Regions from separate parts of the Homo sapiens genome. Here region 2 is linked to region 1. A link means that fine-mapping ties the variant in region 1 to the expression of a gene that starts in the linked region. Tissue or cell type: whole blood. Region 1 holds a variant in brackets; the other region holds the start of a gene. All regions are shown on one strand. Distances are from middle to middle.

What was found. PIP is the estimated chance that this variant, and not a neighbour inherited with it, causes the effect.
Region 2: TOLLIP-DT starts here. The variant in region 1 is fine-mapped to the expression of TOLLIP-DT in whole blood (GTEx, PIP 0.90).

Annotation. Positions count from the first base shown.
Region 1 is chr11:1,284,380-1,292,379 of GRCh38, reverse strand. TOLLIP (toll interacting protein) reads left to right here. Exons shown (of 6, transcript NM_019009.4): 3 at 1,971-2,153; 4 at 3,604-3,756; 5 at 6,288-6,378. Among named protein-coding and RNA genes, the nearest start is that of TOLLIP, 21 kb to the left of the region's middle. The variant A/G (reference allele first, on the strand shown) is at 3,827.
Region 2 is chr11:1,306,067-1,314,066 of GRCh38, reverse strand. TOLLIP-DT (TOLLIP divergent transcript) reads right to left here and starts at 4,359. Exons shown (of 1, transcript NR_029409.1): 1 at 3,360-4,359. TOLLIP (toll interacting protein) reads left to right here and starts at 4,435. Exons shown (of 6, transcript NM_019009.4): 1 at 4,435-4,601. The coding sequence starts at 4,569. RefSeq lists silencers at 2,615-2,744, 4,270-4,979 and an enhancer at 3,278-4,039.

The DNA of each region.
Region 1 (8,000 bases):
GCTTTGCTCAAAGCCTTTAAAGTTATTAATAAAAATAAGTCATAGCAGCTAGGCAGAGACAGCACAGTTACCTGAAAGCTTTGGAAAATCATGCTGGTCTCAGACTTTCCTGCTACATACTCTCCAGAAAATAGGGCAGTTGCTAAGGAGTTTACAGGGGCAGAGTTTGGAGTGTAAGAGCTGATCTAGCAGATGTGTGGGTGTGCAGCAGAAGGGAATTGGAAGCTGCTAGAGGCTGAGCATGCCTGTCGCCCAGGAGCTTCCGGAAAACTGTCACTCCATAGCATTCCGGAGTACGCTGTGGCCACCCAAGAAACACGCTAAAATTAAGGACCCAAGAATGGGGCAGTTTTGACCTAAAAGGACCGGCCACAGCTTTGATTAGAAGTGAAAGGAGGGAACTTGTATGTGGACAAGAATAGAAAACAGAGGACCTGGCAGTCCAGAGATGTGGGCACAGGAGGGGAGAGTTCAGCTGTGCGGCGAGGGTTGGCGTGGACGGGACAGCCGTGCCCTCGGGGGTCGGTGAGGACGGGGCGGCCGTGCCCTCAGAGGTGGGTCGGTGAGGACGGGGCGGCCGTGCCCTCAGAGGTGGGTCGGTGAGGACGGGGCGGCCGTGCCCTCAGAGGTGGGTCGGTGAGGACGGGGCGGCCGTGCCCTCAGAGGGGGGTCAGCGAGGACGGGGCGGCCGTGCCCTCAGCGGGGGGTCAGCGAGGACGGGGCGGCCGTGCCCTCAGAGGGGTGCGGTGAGAACAGGGCGGCGGTGCCCTCAGAGAGGGTTCAGTGAGGACAGGGTGGCCGTGCCCTCAGAGGGGCGTCAGTGAGGATGGGGTGGCCGTGCCTTCGGGGGGTGGGTGGTGAGGACAGGGTGGCAGTACTCTCAGAGGGGGGTTGGTGTGGACAGGTTGGCCGTTCCCTCAGAGGGGGTCGGGGGGCAGTGTCTGGACTCTGTTCCACTGGGAAGGAGGAACTGGCGGGCTCCATGTGGGTGGGAGGGCCGGGATGGCTCCCGGGGTCTCTATCACCAGCTCCTGGGGGTGAGCCGGGTTGGCTGCAGGAGAGCGGGTGGCAGTGGTACAGGGAGGCCGTCTGCATTCCAGGCAGGACGCTTTACAGGCAGCCGGAGCTGCAGGGCTGAACCCAACCCAGCTTACGAGGGCTTTTCTCCTGGTTTTTTCTTGTAAAGGTTTTACAGTTTTAGGTTTTATATTTGAACCTGCCATCCATGTTGAGTTTGTTTGCTGAACAATCATCTTACTTGCCACGGTCTTCTGTCTTATTCTGAACACACGTTCACTCCCACCCCGAGGACCTCAAATGTCCCTGCCCAGCTGAGCACCTGGCCTGAAGTCGAATCTCATGGTCTACATGTGATGTGGCTCCTTGTGATTGGGAGACACAAGAAAGACAAGTTCCAGTCCCCAAAACCCCACGTACTCCGATAGCACAGGCAGGGCTGCTGCCTTCACGAGGGAGGAAAGCAGCCACGTGGCGTCTGAATTATGTGCAGCAGGTGTCCTCACTCTCACCTAGAGCGAGGATGCACCTCTCCCGGGTCATCATGCTCCGGGGGCAGGTTCACACTCCATGTCATGCTCTGGCTCTCAGCTCTGTCCCGGGACCTCCTCCTCTTTCCCTCCTCAGCCACTTCTGAGGAGGGCATTAGAGAGTGCGCCCTTCATGGTGGGTGAGTGGCGGCCTCAGCTGTGTCTGTGAGCGTCGTAGGTTTCTGCTGTCAAGGACGAGCCACGTGCTTTGTCTCAGAACTGCACGATCCATCTGTGGCTCACTCTTCTTGCTCCTGGCCTCCTGGGAAGCAGGTCACAGCCGTGTTCAGGCGACTCTGAGTGGCTGTAGTCTATGTGTTAGGAAAAGGCCTCGTGGAAGGGTTCAGGGAGGCAGACGGCCTAGAGAACCCACCCTCTCCTGATGGTTGGCACCTCCTTTTCCTGACATTGGCTTCATTCCAGGCAAAGTTGGCCAAGAATTACGGCATGACCCGCATGGACCCCTACTGCCGACTGCGCCTGGGCTACGCGGTGTACGAGACGCCCACGGCACACAATGGCGCCAAGAATCCCCGCTGGAATAAGGTCATCCACTGCACGGTGCCCCCAGGCGTGGACTCTTTCTATCTCGAGATCTTCGATGAGGTGAGAGGGACGTGCCAGCTATTATGGAGGCTGCACGTGGCTGAGCGTGGCTGCCGTGGGGACACACCTGCCAACACAGCCACGTTCCTGGCTGGCTTCGAGGCGTGGCTCCCCACCTGGTGTTTCATTGGGTGCATGACAGGGTCCTGCTCTCCCCAAGGAATGTGAAAAAGGGATTGTTTCCAGCTCCTTGAACATACTTACATTTGGAAACATCCCCAGTGACAAGCATGACCCAGGGATACAGCGTGCACGTGTCCCCTCCGCTGGGCGCACAGGGTCTGGCCGCTCACCAGCAGGTGGGATTTCCAGGGACAGAGCGTGCACGTGTCCCCTCCGCTGGGCACTGATCTGGCCGCTCACCAGCAGGTGGGATTTCCAGGGACAGAGCATGCATGTGTCCCCCGCCACTGGGCACTCGTCTGGCCGCTCACCAGCAGGTGGGATTTCCAGGGACAGAGCATGCATGTGTCCGCCCCGCTGGGCGCACAGGGTCTTGCCGCACACCAGCAGGTGGGATTTCCAGGGACAGAGTGTGCACGTGTCCACTGGGCACTCGTCTGGCCGCTCACCAGCAGGTGGGATTTCCAGGGACAGAGCGTGCATGTGTCCGCCCCGCTGGGCGCACAGGGTCCGGCCGCTCACCAGCAGGTGGGATTTCCAGAGAGTGCGGCTGCCTACTGGGTGGGAAAGCTGTTCTTGGTGGTGCGAATGGTCGTGACCCTTGAGGGTCCTGAGTCCCGTCCGTGGCTGCACCTGCAGCGCTTCTGAGGCAGAGTCAGAAGGTCAGAGGGGATGTGGCGAGGCTGCTGCTCAGTGTGGTCCTGGCACCTCGCACCTGTGGCATTGTGAGGCTAGAGACTGGGTGGGGGCCGGGGAGCAGTGTGGGGCAGCCAGGCCAGCAGACGGCCAGCCCTCCCTGCCTGGGCCCTGCCTTTTCCTCCCGGCTTTTCTCTCCCCGTCCCTACCTGCTTTCCCCTCCCTGGCCCTCAGAAGAGTAGAGAGCGCATGGGAAGTGCAGAGTCAGCTGTGGGAGGCAGACCCCGTGTCCTTTCCAGTCTGCACCCCGGCTGCTCTGGGGCTTGACAGGTGGCAGCCGGTGGAGCAAGGATGGGGCCCCGAGGGCTGGGGAGGAGCAGCCAGTGTCCCTGAAGTGGAACTGAAGGAGGACAGCAGCCCAGGGCCCTCGCTTTCCCCAGCCCCAGACCTGGCCCTGGCCCTGGCCCTGGCCCATCCTGGTGGAGAGAGGGAAGAAGTCCCCTACGGAGGCTGATATACGATCGTGAAGCCTGCGCTGCCCGAGGGGTCTCATCGATGGGGTGTTGGTGCAGGTGGGAGCCCTGTTCCACAGATAAGACGGGGACTCGAGGCGGGCCCACGATGGTGCGGCTGCAGGGGCAGGGTGGCCCCTTCCCTGATGCCTGGGGCCTCTCCCTCTTGTCTCCCGCAGAGAGCCTTCTCCATGGACGACCGCATTGCCTGGACCCACATCACCATCCCGGAGTCCCTGAGGCAGGGCAAGGTGGAGGACAAGTGGTACAGCCTGAGCGGGAGGCAGGGGGACGACAAGGAGGGCATGATCAACCTCGTCATGTCCTACGCGGTGAGCTGCACGCCTGGGCGGGGTGGGGCGCATTGGGGTATGTTGGAGCACGTCGGGGCTATGCCGCCCC[A/G]CAGACACCCTTGTCTCTTTCCTGGAGGCACTGAGCCCATAAAACAGCAGGGCTCACGTTCTGAGGACAGAGGGCAGGGGCCCTGGGTGGTTTGGTGGCAGAGAGGGGCTGCCCTGCCCACTGCTCCTGCCCATGTTCTCTGTCTGGGGAAACAGCATAGGGGTTGTTTGTGTTCCTAAGATGAGCCAACCCTTTGTGGTGGTCTCCACTGCAGGCCCCTGTGTCCTCGGAGGACCCCCACAGCCCTTCCAAGCTCTGCCCTTAGGGTCCAGCTGAGCAGCCCTCCAGGGTCTGAGATACAGCCCTGGGCCCTGCAGGACACCAGGCTCCTCCCCACAGGGCAGGCATTGGCCGTGGTGTGGCAGGGCATCTCTGGAGATGTCGGGGAAGCCTGGGGGCTGCTGTGCTCAGGGTCAGGAAGTCGAGGCCTGGCTGTGGGGCCAGCACGTCAGCGCCCTGGCTCCCAGCCATCTCCATTCTCAGGGCACCTGCAGCTCCTGGGGGCATCAGGAGGGCCAGTTAGAGGCTCCAAGACGCAGAGCTCCTGCCGTCTCGTCTGTATCATCAACCAGAGGATTTTCAGGCTGTTACTGAAAAATGGTGCTGTGGGAAATGCCAGGCAGATGTGACAGCAGAGAGGGTGCAGCAGAGAGGGTGCAGCAGGGAGGGTGCAGCAGGGAGGCTGCAGCAGAGAGGGTGCGGCAGGGAGGCTGCGGCGGGGAGGGTGCGGCGGGGAGGCTGCGGCGGGGAGGCTGCGGCAGGGAGGGTGCGGCGGGGAGGCTGCGGCGGGGAGGGTGCGGCGGGGAGGCTGCGGCGGGGAGGCTGCGGCAGAGAGGGTGCAGCGGGGAGGCTGCGGCGGGGAGGCTGCGGCGGGGAGGGTGCGGCGGGGAGGCTGCGGCGGGGAGGGTGCGGCGGGGAGGCTGCGGCGGGGAGGCTGCGGCGGGGAGGGTGCGGCGGGGAGGCTGCGGCGGGGAGGGTGCGGCGGGGAGGCTGCGGCGGGGAGGCTGCGGCGGTGAGGCTGCGGCGGGGAGGCTGCGGCGGGGAGGCTGCGGCGGGGAGGGTGCGGCGGGGAGGGTGCGGCGGGGAGGCTGCGGCGGGGAGGGTGCGGCGGGGAGGCTGCGGCGGGGAGGGTGCGGCGGGGAGGCTGCGGCGGGGAGGCAGCAGCAGGGAGCTGCTTTTCTGGGCCATCTTGGCTCCTCCCACCCCCTTTTTGTTAAAGCTGGGATATTTTAAATCATGTCCCGGCCGTGAGTGACGATGTGTAAATGTCTCATGACACGTCTTTAACAGACGCTTTCATACAAACACAGAACCATCATGACGCTCCAGTGATTTTACCTGCAGTTGACAGTTTCGAACTCAGAGACGACAGTGGTGCAGTGACTTATCCGCAGTTGACAGTTTCGAACTCAGAAGACAGCGGTGCAGTGACTTATCCACAGCTGACAGTTTTGAACTCAGAGACGGCAGCGGTGCAGTGACTTATCCGCAGCTGACAGTTTTGAACTCAGAGGCGACAGTGGTGCAGTGACTTATCCGCAGCTGACAGTTTCGAACTCAGAGACAACCGCGGTGCAGTGACTTATCCACAGTTGACAGTTTTGAACTCAGAGACAACAGCAGTGCAGTGACTTATCCGCAGTGGACAGTTTTGAACTCAGGAGACAGCAGTGCAGTGACTTATCTGCAGTGGACAGTTTTGAACTAAACTCAGAGACGACAGCAGTGCAGTGACTTATCCACGGTTGACAGTTTTGAACTCAGAGACAACAGCAGTGCAATGACTTATCCGCAGTGGACAGTTTTGAACTCAGGAGACAGCAGTGCAGTGACTTATCCACAGTGGACAGTTTTGAACTAAACTTAGAGATGACAGCGGTGCAGTGACTTATCCACAGTTGACAGTTTTGAACTCAGGAGACAGCAGTGCAGTGACTTATCCGCAGTGGACAGTTTTGAACTAAACTCAGAGACGACAGCGGTGCAGTGACTTATCCGCAGTTGACAGTTTTGAACTCAGAGGTGACAGTGGTGCAGTGACTTATCCACAGTGGACAGTTTTGAACTCAGAGTTGACAGCAGTGCAGTGACTTATGTGAAGTTGACACTTTCAAACTCAGACACCACAGCAGTGCAGTGTGGTTCCCCCCAGGCCGACTCGACACCTACACTGGGATGTCCCTCCTGTCACCATCCTCTCTCAGTCACATCCCAGTTAGAAGGGGGTCTGTAAGCCCGAGCCATGTCACCTCCTGGATTTGAGGAGGTGGTGCAGGGGTGGGAGCAGGGCCCAGCGTCCCCTGTGCACTCAGGGCTCGTGTAGCGAGGGTGATTCTGGGCTGGCATGGGGAGGGCGATTCTGGGCTGGCGTGGGGAGGGCAATTGTGGGGAGGGCGATTCCCGAGGTTCTGATGGGTGGATGTTCCTCCTTGACCCCGGGACCATCTCCGCTGTGTTTCAGCTGCTTCCAGCTGCCATGGTGATGCCACCCCAGCCCGTGGTCCTGATGCCAACAGTGTACCAGCAGGGCGTTGGCTATGTGCCCATCACAGGTGCGTGTGCTCCCTCCCTGGGTGCCTCTCCCCTGGTAGAAACCCCAGGGCCTAGGGCAGGTGCGGGAGGAGGGAACGGGGCTTAGAGCGCCGGGGTGGGGACGTCATCCATTCTAGAATCCTGTAGACGTGCTGACCGCACACAGATCCTTTCAGGCCAGGAAGCCAAGGCTTACGTTTGAATTTTGTTTGCATATCTAGAAAATAGAATTGTTTTTTTTTTTTTTTTCTAATTGTTGGCAGAAATGAGGTGAGTTGAAATTTTCAGAGATGTGGAAATGTGGCTTTGAAACCCCGTTGTGCCCAGCTCTGTGCAGGAGAACCTCACGCCCCTGTCAGGTGACACGTGCTCTGCACTGTGCCGTCGTGTCCGAACCTCACGCCCATTGGGTGACGCGTGCCCTGCGCTGCGCCGTTGTGTCTGAACCTCACGCTCCTGTTGGGTGATGCGTGCTCTCTACTGCGCTGTTGCGTCTGTTGTCGTGTGTCACTGTTAGGAGTGAGCAGCCTGTGGCTGCAGCAACACCAAGCTGGGATGTCGCTTTTCATGCTGTTGCATTTTCGGTCCAGCTGTGACTGTGGTAGCTGCTGGTGCAAGACCGGCCCCCACCATGGATGGGCCCAGCCGTCTTTAGCAGGCGGGGAGACCGCAGCCCCTGAGAGGAGGTGCTAGGGGGGAGCCTGTGGTCACCCTGGTTCTCCTGCTGAGGTGGCCTCTCTCGTTCTGGGGAGCTGGTGTCCAGGCAGAGCACTGGTCCCTCTGCACGGAGGGTGGAGGCCAGAGGCCCAGGCCATGGAAGTGGCCAAGTTGCGGGCAGGGCGCTAGGGATGCGTGGTGGTGTTGGGGGAGGTGGTGTTAGGGGAGGGTCTCGGGGCTGCATGAGGCCCCGGCTGCTTGTGCTCAGGGGCTGCTTTGGGGTTGGGGCGGGACAGAGCTGCTGGCAGGCGAGAGTGCTGTGAGGCCAGTGCTGGTGTCCAGCCCAGCTGGAGTGGAGAGGCCTGGTCAGCACCCCAGTCCTGCCAGCATCCTGCACAGATGCAGAAAGGCCACCTTGGGAGTCGGGACCTCGCCCTAGACCCACCTGATGTGGCCTGAAACCCAGCCCTGACGATGGGAAGGAGGAGACGGCACTGGGAGACTCTGGGCTGTCCACTGGTGTTCAGGACATTCTCGGACAAAACTGCCTGTGAGAACAGCATGGCCTCGCCCTCACTTGCTCACATTATAGACTCTGTTTCCATGTGAAGCCGCCCGCGCAGGTGCCAGGGCTGCCTTTCTCCAGAGGAAAGAGCAGAGCGTGTGTCTGAGAGGGCCTCTGTGGTGTCCAGTGTCTTAGAAAACCACCAGCCTGGGGGTGGGTGTGGGGGCTCATGCCTCTAATCCCGGCACCTTGGGAGGCCAAGGCGGGCAGATCGTGAGGTCAGGAGATCAAGACCATCCTGGCCAACACGGTGAAACCCCGTCTCTACTAAAAATACAAACAAATTAGCCGGGCGCGGTGGTGGGCGCCTGTAGTCCCAGCTGCTCGGGAGGCTGAGGCAGGAGAATGGTGTGAACCCAGGAGGTGGAGCTTGCAGTGAGCCGAGATTGCGCCACTGCACTCCAGCCTGGGTGACAGAGC
Region 2 (8,000 bases), 22 kb before region 1:
TAAAACTACAAAACACTGATGAAAAAAATTGAAGATGATGCAAACAAATGGAAAGATGTCCCATGCTCACCGATTGGAAAAATTAATATTATTAAAATGGCTATACTGCCCAAAACAATCTATAGATTCAATACAATGCCTATCAAAATACCAACATCATTTTTCACAGCAATAGAAAAAACAATCCTAAAATATTTATGGAACAAAAAGAGCCCAAATAGCCAAAGCAATCCTGAGCAGAAAGAACAAAGCTGGAGGCATCACATTATCCAACTTCAAAATAAACTACAAAAGTATCATAACCAAAACAGCATTGTATTCATACAAAAACAGACACATAGACCAATGGAACAGAAGAGAGAATCCAGAAATAAATCCACATACTTACAGCCAACTGATTTCTGACAAAGGCACCAAAAACACACAGTGGGGAAAGGACACCCTCTTCAATAAATGGTGCTTGGAAAATTGGACATCCAGATGAAGAAGAATGAAACTGGACTCCTATCTCCCACCATCTGCAAAAGTCAAATCAAGATGAATTAAAGACTTAAAGTAAGACCTGAAAGTATAAAACTACTAGAAGAAAACACAGGAAAAACACTTAAGGACACTGGTCTAGGCGAAGATTTTATGGCTAAGATCTTAAAAGCACAGGCAATAAAAACAAAATAGACAAATGGGACTATATTAAACTAAAAAGTTTCTGCACAGCAAAGGGAATTATCAGCAGAGTGAGGAGACAACCTGCTGAATGGGAGAAAATATTTGCGAAGTATTCATCCAACAAGGGACTAATATCCAGAATATACAAACAACTCAACAGTAAAAAATCAAAAAATCCCACTTAAAAGTGGGCAAAGGACATGAATAGACATTTTTTTTTTTTTTTGAGAAAGAGTCTTGCTCTGTCGCCCAGGCTGGAGTGCAGTGGCATGATCTCAGCTCACTGCAACCTCTGCCTGCCAGGTTCAAGCAATTCTCCTTCCTTAGCCTCCCAAGTAGCTGGGATTACAGGCATGTGCCACCACGCCAGGCTATTTTTTTTTTTTTTTTTTTGTATTTTTAGAAGAGACAGGGTTTCACCATGTTGGCCAGGCTGGTCTTGAACTCATGACCTCAAGTGATCCACCTACCTTGGCCTCCCAAAGTGTTGGGATTACAGGCATGAGCCACCACGCCCAGCCTGTATGTCTTCTTTTTAGAAATTTGTAGGCACTCTTAATACATTTAGACTAACTCTGTCATATATATTGAAAGTGTTTTCTTTTTGTCATTAACCTTTTATTGAGATAAAACTTACATACATACATCAGAATGCACAAATCATAAGTTTACAATCATGTGAGTTTTGATAAATTTACACATTGGTATAACCACTCCATCCCAATCAAGGTATATAATCTTTCTACCACCCCAGAAAGTTCCCTCATGGTCCTGTCTAGTCAATCTCCAGTCCCTCACTTCCAACACACATAGATAACCACTGTTCTGAAATACATCGCCATATCATTTTGCAAGAAATTTCAATTGACATATAATTTTTTTTCTGTTAGCACTTTAAAGATGTCACTCCATTCACATGACTTACCTTCTTTCCAATGAGAAGTCTGCTATTCTAATCTTCATTCTTCTGGATGTAATGTGTCATTTTCCTCTGTCTGCTTTTAAGAGTTTCTCCTTGCTTTCTGTTATCAGCAGTGTGAATATGACCTGACTAAGTGTTTTGTTTATTTGTTTGGAATCCATTGCTTCCTAAATATTTTGTTTGGTGCCTACCATTAACTTGGAGAATTATTGGCCATTATTTCTTCAGATTTTCTGCCTCATTCTCCTTTTTTCTTCTGGAATTCTAATAATGCTTAAGTCAGATCACGTGGCTGTAAGCTTAGTGGCTTAAAACAACACACACTTATCTCAGAGTTTTTGTGGGGTAGGAGTTCAGGCACAGCTTAGCTGGCTTATTCTTGGGTCTTACGAGGCTATAATTAAGTTGTCAGCTGGGTTGCATTCTCATCTGGAGGCTTGACTGGGGAAGGATCAAAGCCCCCTCAGATTCCTGGCAGAATTTGTTTCCTTGAAGTTGTAGGAATTATGGCACCTCGCCTCTTCAAAGCCAGCAGCTGAGAGACCCTTGAGAATAAGTCTGAGAGCAAGATGGAGTCTTTTATAACATCAGGTAATCATGGGAGGGACATCCCATCACCACTGCCATATTCTGTTGTTTAAAAGCAAGCCACAGGCTCTGTCCACCCTCAAGACAAGAGGATTATTCAAGGATGTGAACACCAGGAGGCAGGGATCATATGTCTACCTTACAACCTGTCCACCCCATAGGGGAATAATATTAAGGCAAGAGCTGAATCTAGTGTTTAGCGGAGGTCCTGGTGGGAGATACAGATTTTAGGATCATCAGCATATGGATGGCATTTAAAGGAATGGAACTGGATGAGCTCACTGAGGATGTAGATAGAAAAGATGTGCAAGGACTGAGCCCTGAGGTAAGGCACTCCGATGTTAAGGAGTCAAAGTGTTACCAGTGTGCCCTGGCATCTTGTAATCTCCCAGGATAGAAATAAAGAGAGATCAGCAGACATAGCAGCGAGGAGAAAGAGAAATCTTTATTTAGCTTGTGCACAAGGAAGTCAGCACCATGAAAGGAAAACGGTGGGGGGCCCCGCCGCCAGGGGGTGGCACGTGGGTTAGTTTCACAGGGAAGGGATTGGTCCAGGCATGGATAGGAGGGGTTTGTCTAGTGCTTCTCAGTAGCTTTGCATGCTTCTTCATGCATTGCATGCAACATTCACATTTTAAATCTCTACCCCTAGGTGTGATTTTTAGCGTGAAAATGAGGAAGGGGTAACAATAGTTGAAGTATAAGTCTAACTGCACATGTGGGGCCCGGGGAAGTCCCTAGGCCCCCAAAGCAGGAACTTGTGGTTAATAGCTTCTTGGGTCTTGTGCTGTGGATTGGCTGGATGTTAAGCTACAACTTGAGGAAGGGGCTTTCGTTCTTTTTCTCTACACCCCATCAAAACAGGCAAGCGGCCAGGCTGCCGGTTTTAAAAGGAGAGACTGGTAACCGAGACCCAAAGATGTGGTCTTTGGGATAAGAGGAAAGTGAGAGCACATGGTGTCCTGGATGGGGAGTGAAGAAAGCATGTGTAGCAAGAATGACTATCGATTTTGCTGTAGTTCCCGGAGGACGAGGACTGAGAACTGACCACTAACAATATAGAGATCACTGACAAAGAGTTTTTAGTGGAGTGGTTGTGTTACCGGAAAAGGGTCCTGATCCAGACCCCAAAAGAGGATTCGTGGATCTTGTGGAAGAAAGAATTCCAGGCCAGTCCACAGAGTAAAGTGAAAGCAAGTTTATTAAGGCAGTGAAGGAATAAAAGAATGGCTACTCCATAGAGCAGGGTGTTCCCAAAAGCACGAGGAGGAAGGCGTCCACCTGGGTACGCTTGTTTATATGTAAGATAAAAGCCAAAAAACATCACGGGGGAGACGTGCTGTACTACCTGGGCTCGTCAAAGGATTGCCAATCTTTGCATAACGCCTGTCCTCCGCAAGCATCTGTATCATTATCTTTAAAGCGAAACTTCAACTAAGAATGCTTCTTGTTCTTAAGATACCCGGACATCGGGACCTAAGTTCCGGGTCTGCTGCGTAAAAGTTTATTAACCTGTTCCCGTGACCGTAAACGCCCGACTCCTGGGGATGCAGCCAGCGGGGTTCAGCCTCAGTTTACCCAGCGCTGTTCGAGCTGGAGTCGCTCTGGTTGGAGCGCCTGACCGCGAGGGCCGAGGTCAGGCCGGACTGGGGTTCTCCGGAGCGAGCAGGAGAGGAGCGGGGCTCCTGCGGAGCGGCGCGGCGGGGAGGCCGAGGGCAGGGCGGGCTCGAGCTCGGGCTCTTCTGGCAGCGCCTCCATCCCCGTTCCGTTCACCCGGCAGCCGCCCCGTGGAGGAACCGCGCCCCATCTTTAGCCCTGTGAAACAGAAAGGCCCTTCCTCCGGCAGGCAGCTGAGGGAAAGATCGCCCTGCAGGGGATGTCGGGCCTGTCACTGCTTTGTTGCGGGCCACAGTTCCCTCCCTTCTCCGAGCGGGTCGCACGTCCGAAGGTCACCCCCGCCAGGTGGCTAGGCCCTGTCGCCACTCGACAGAGGACCGAGGAGGAACCAACCCACTGCCCAGACTGCAGCGCCGCCACGCTAGGGCCCGCGCCGACAACCGTCATGACTGGGCATGCGCAAACGGCCCCGCCGGGAGCCATTTCGCCGGGCTGCAGGGCTCGAGGAGAGAGCAGGTGCGCAGGCGCCGGGCGAGAGGCTGCGCCTGCCCTACCCTGGAGCGCGCGTGCGCGCGAGAGCCGGAAGGGGCGGTGCCTGGCGCGGCGCCTGCGCAGTGGGGCGGTGCCGGGGGCGGGGCGCGGCGGCTGTCAGCTGACTGTGGCGGCGGCGGCCTCGAGGTGACAACTGTCTCCGTCGCAGGCTCCGGCGGGGGCGCAGGAGGTCGCCCGGCGCGTCACTGTCGGGTCGGCGAGCCACGGGGGCCGCCGCAGCACCATGGCGACCACCGTCAGCACTCAGCGCGGGCCGGTGAGGCAGCCGGGCGAGGGTCGGGCGGGGGCGGTGACCTGCGGTTGCGGGCGGGGCCTTGGGTCAGGGCTACTGCTCAGCTGCGGCTGGCGGGCCGACTCCGCGGCTCTCCCGGGGCACGCGGGGCGCCTGGCCGGCCGGAGGGGAGCGGCGGCGTCCACACCTCGGGGCGGGGCGGGCCGGACGGACGCGCCCACGCTGCAGGAGGCTTGAGCTCACCGCCGTGCCGGGGCAGAGCTTTGGGGAGGCAGCCCCGGGGGAGGGGGCCTGCGCCCGTTGTGAGCCCCAGATGGAGGCGGGCCCCGTGCCCCATGGTGCCCCAGAGGGAGGCAGGCCCCGCTCCCCAATGGTCTCCAGATGGAGGAGGGCCCGGTGCCCAGATGGAGGCGGCCCCGAGCTCTGACTCCCGAATGGAGGAGGGCCCCGCACCCTAATGGTCCCCCAGGTGGAGGCGGGCCCTGAACCCTAATGGTCCCCTAGATGGATGCGGGCCCTGCTCCCTGATGGCCCCCCAGGTGGAGGCGGGTCCCGCACCCTGATGGCACCCTAGATGGAGGCGGGCCCCGCACCCTGATGGCCCCCCCAGGTGGAGGCGGGTCCCGCACCCTGATGGCCCCCCAGGTGGAGGCGGGCCTGCACTCTAGTTGGTCCCATAGATGATGGCTGTTTCCTCTTTCTCATTTACACAGAGTGAGGGCAGTGGTGACCACTTCTTGGGCCCAATTGTGTCCCCGGTTAGTGGCCACCGTGCAAAACCTCAGTTTCTTCATTTGCAAATGAGAGGATAGGCGCCAGGAACTTCAGAGAACCTTTCCTGCTCTGAATTCTCTCCTGAGAGTTGCCTGGCAGTTTCTTCTATAGCATTAATATTGCAGGAGAGCTGGTGTAGACTGACTCAGAGATGATGGGCTCCTGGCGTGAGTGGCCTCCTGGCTCACTGTTAGGGCCTTCTTGCATTGCTGTAAAGGAATACCGAGACTGGGTAATTTGTAAGAAAAGAGATTTAATTGGCTCCCGGTTCTGCAGGCTGTACAGGTAGCATGGTGCCGGCATCTGCTCCTGGGGAGGCCTCTGGAAGCTCCCAGTCATGGCGGAAGGCCAAGTGGGAGCTTACACGTCACATGGCGAAAGCAGCAAGAGAGTTGGGGGTGGGGAGGTGCCACACACTGTAATGACCAGATCTTGTGAGAACTCACTATCACCGGGACAGCACCAAGCCACGAGGGATCTGTCCCTGTGACCCACACACCCACCCTGCCAGGCCCCACCTCCAACATTGGGGATCATAATTCAGCGTGAGATTTGGCGGGGACACAGATTCAAACCGTGTCACTCACTGAGGCTGGGCTGGGGCAGGCTGTCGTGAGCGGTACAGTTTTTATCAACAGTGGCTCTGAACATGCCGTGGGTGGAAAAAGTCCTTTTTCACGATGCTCCAAGGTCCCTGCCCTCGCGCAGCCCAGTACTGGACGTGGTGGAGGGGTCACCAGGGCTCCCCACCCTTAACACTGTATCCACAAGTCCTGGTGTTTCTCCCGAGGAGATAATTCTTCAGGTAGAACATTTTTTCTGAGTTTAGAATGAAGCCCCAGGTTTTGGGCATAGCTGCTTTTTCTGAGGACTTTGAAGGAAACCTCCTGACACTTATGAGACTCAGGTGTGGAGCCTACGGGTCGGCAGAGGTCCTGGACGGCCTCTGATGGCAGCGTCTCTACCTCTTCATCTTTACTCCACCACAGTGAGTCCCCGCAAGTTGCCGTGGCAGCCAAGTGCTCCTTTCTGCCTAACAGGAGACTCAGAGCAACAAGGGAACCAGCACCCTGCTGTTGTGTCCTCCTGGAGAGCAGGGGGGCATGGTGGCCAGGCAGGATGGCCCCTTCCTTGCTGTGTGGTCTGGGAGACATCCTCTGCCTCCTGGGAACTTGTTCCTCATCTGGAACCCCACTGGGGTGTAGGACTGATTTTGAATGCATCAGGTGCTGAGCAGGCAGGGAGCAGTGGGAGGCAGGCCCTTCCTGTTCTGAGGGGCACCGGCGTGCAGCGCTGTTACACCCGCGATGAGGAAGTGGGAGCGGCAGGAGATGTTCTCACACGCAGGGCCTGTGCTGGCAAGTGCTGAGGTGTCGTTAGAATCTCCTCTTGCCCAGTGCCTCCTGGGCTGTTTCCATCATGTAGACGAGCAGGTATTTCAGGGGCACCCCCGTTGACCGGTAAACGCATAGTAACATGAGGTCTGGCTCGGAGCTGCCAGGGTCTCTTAAGAAGGTGTTGTCAGCGACGGGGGTCTCAGGTGTTGCTTGGAGTACATGTGACTTAATCAACCAGCGCTACCAACTGTGGCGTTCAGGATGGCCATGATGCAGGGGACAACCAGGTGGTTCCTGCCACTGGGGTCTTCCAGGGCAGCACGGTAGACATGGCAGCACATAAGGACAGCTGAGCTGTGTGGTGACGGCCCGGTGGGTCTGTGATCTTAAGCGTCAGGTGCTGGGAGAGTTTGTAAATGGGCCTCACCAGGGCTGGGTGTTGGGGTGAGGACGTGACATCTCTCGGAGGAGGAATGGGAGTAGGGGTTGGGCTGGGAGGGCAGGGCACGGAAAGAGAGGTGTGGGGTCTGGAGGTGGAGAGGAGGGAGCCCCAGGGGCCGAGGATGGAGGGAGGCAGGAGCTGGAGGCCGCCGGAGGGTCCTGGGCACAGGAGGACTGGACTTGCCCTGGAGTTTACCGGCTCAGCGCAGCACTCTGTAAAGTGTTGCCTGGCACACGCAAGGCAGGGCCCGCCTTGGCACCAGCCTGCTTCGCTGAGCATGACCCACCCCAGCCCCTCTGAATTAACCCATAGTGGGCCTTTACCCAGTTACTAGCACCTAGAGGAGCCCTGCTTTTGCAGGATGTCTTGACACAGTATTTATCATGTCCTCTTTCTGTTACACCTGTGGTGCCAGAGAGGCAGGAGGTTAAGCAGGGCGCTCGCTCAGCTTTCCAGCAGAAAGAGATGCTCCCCAGGGTCCGGGGGCAGGACTCTGGCTCGGGAGACCCTGACTGTGGTCTAGCCGTTGCCTCCCCCTAGTGATAAGGGGAGACGGCAAGATCCCATGGGCCGTGAAGGAGCAGAGGGGCCGCTAATGGGGTCCTGGGAGGGTTCTTTTGTCCTTGGGTAGAGGGAGCTTCAGGGGCCCGGGTGGGTAGGTGTGGAGAGGACGTGTGAAGCTAGCCAGCCCGACATCGTTCTGAGAGAATCATACCGTGTTTAGATCTTCAGGATAATGGTTCCCTGAATAGCCACTAAGGGATGCTTCAGCCCTGTGCAGTGCTTCCCTCACGTTTCAAAAAGGCCAGTATTTTGGAAAGATAACCTTTTTTCAATATAGTCTGCATATTATCAGAAAGCATGGGTGAG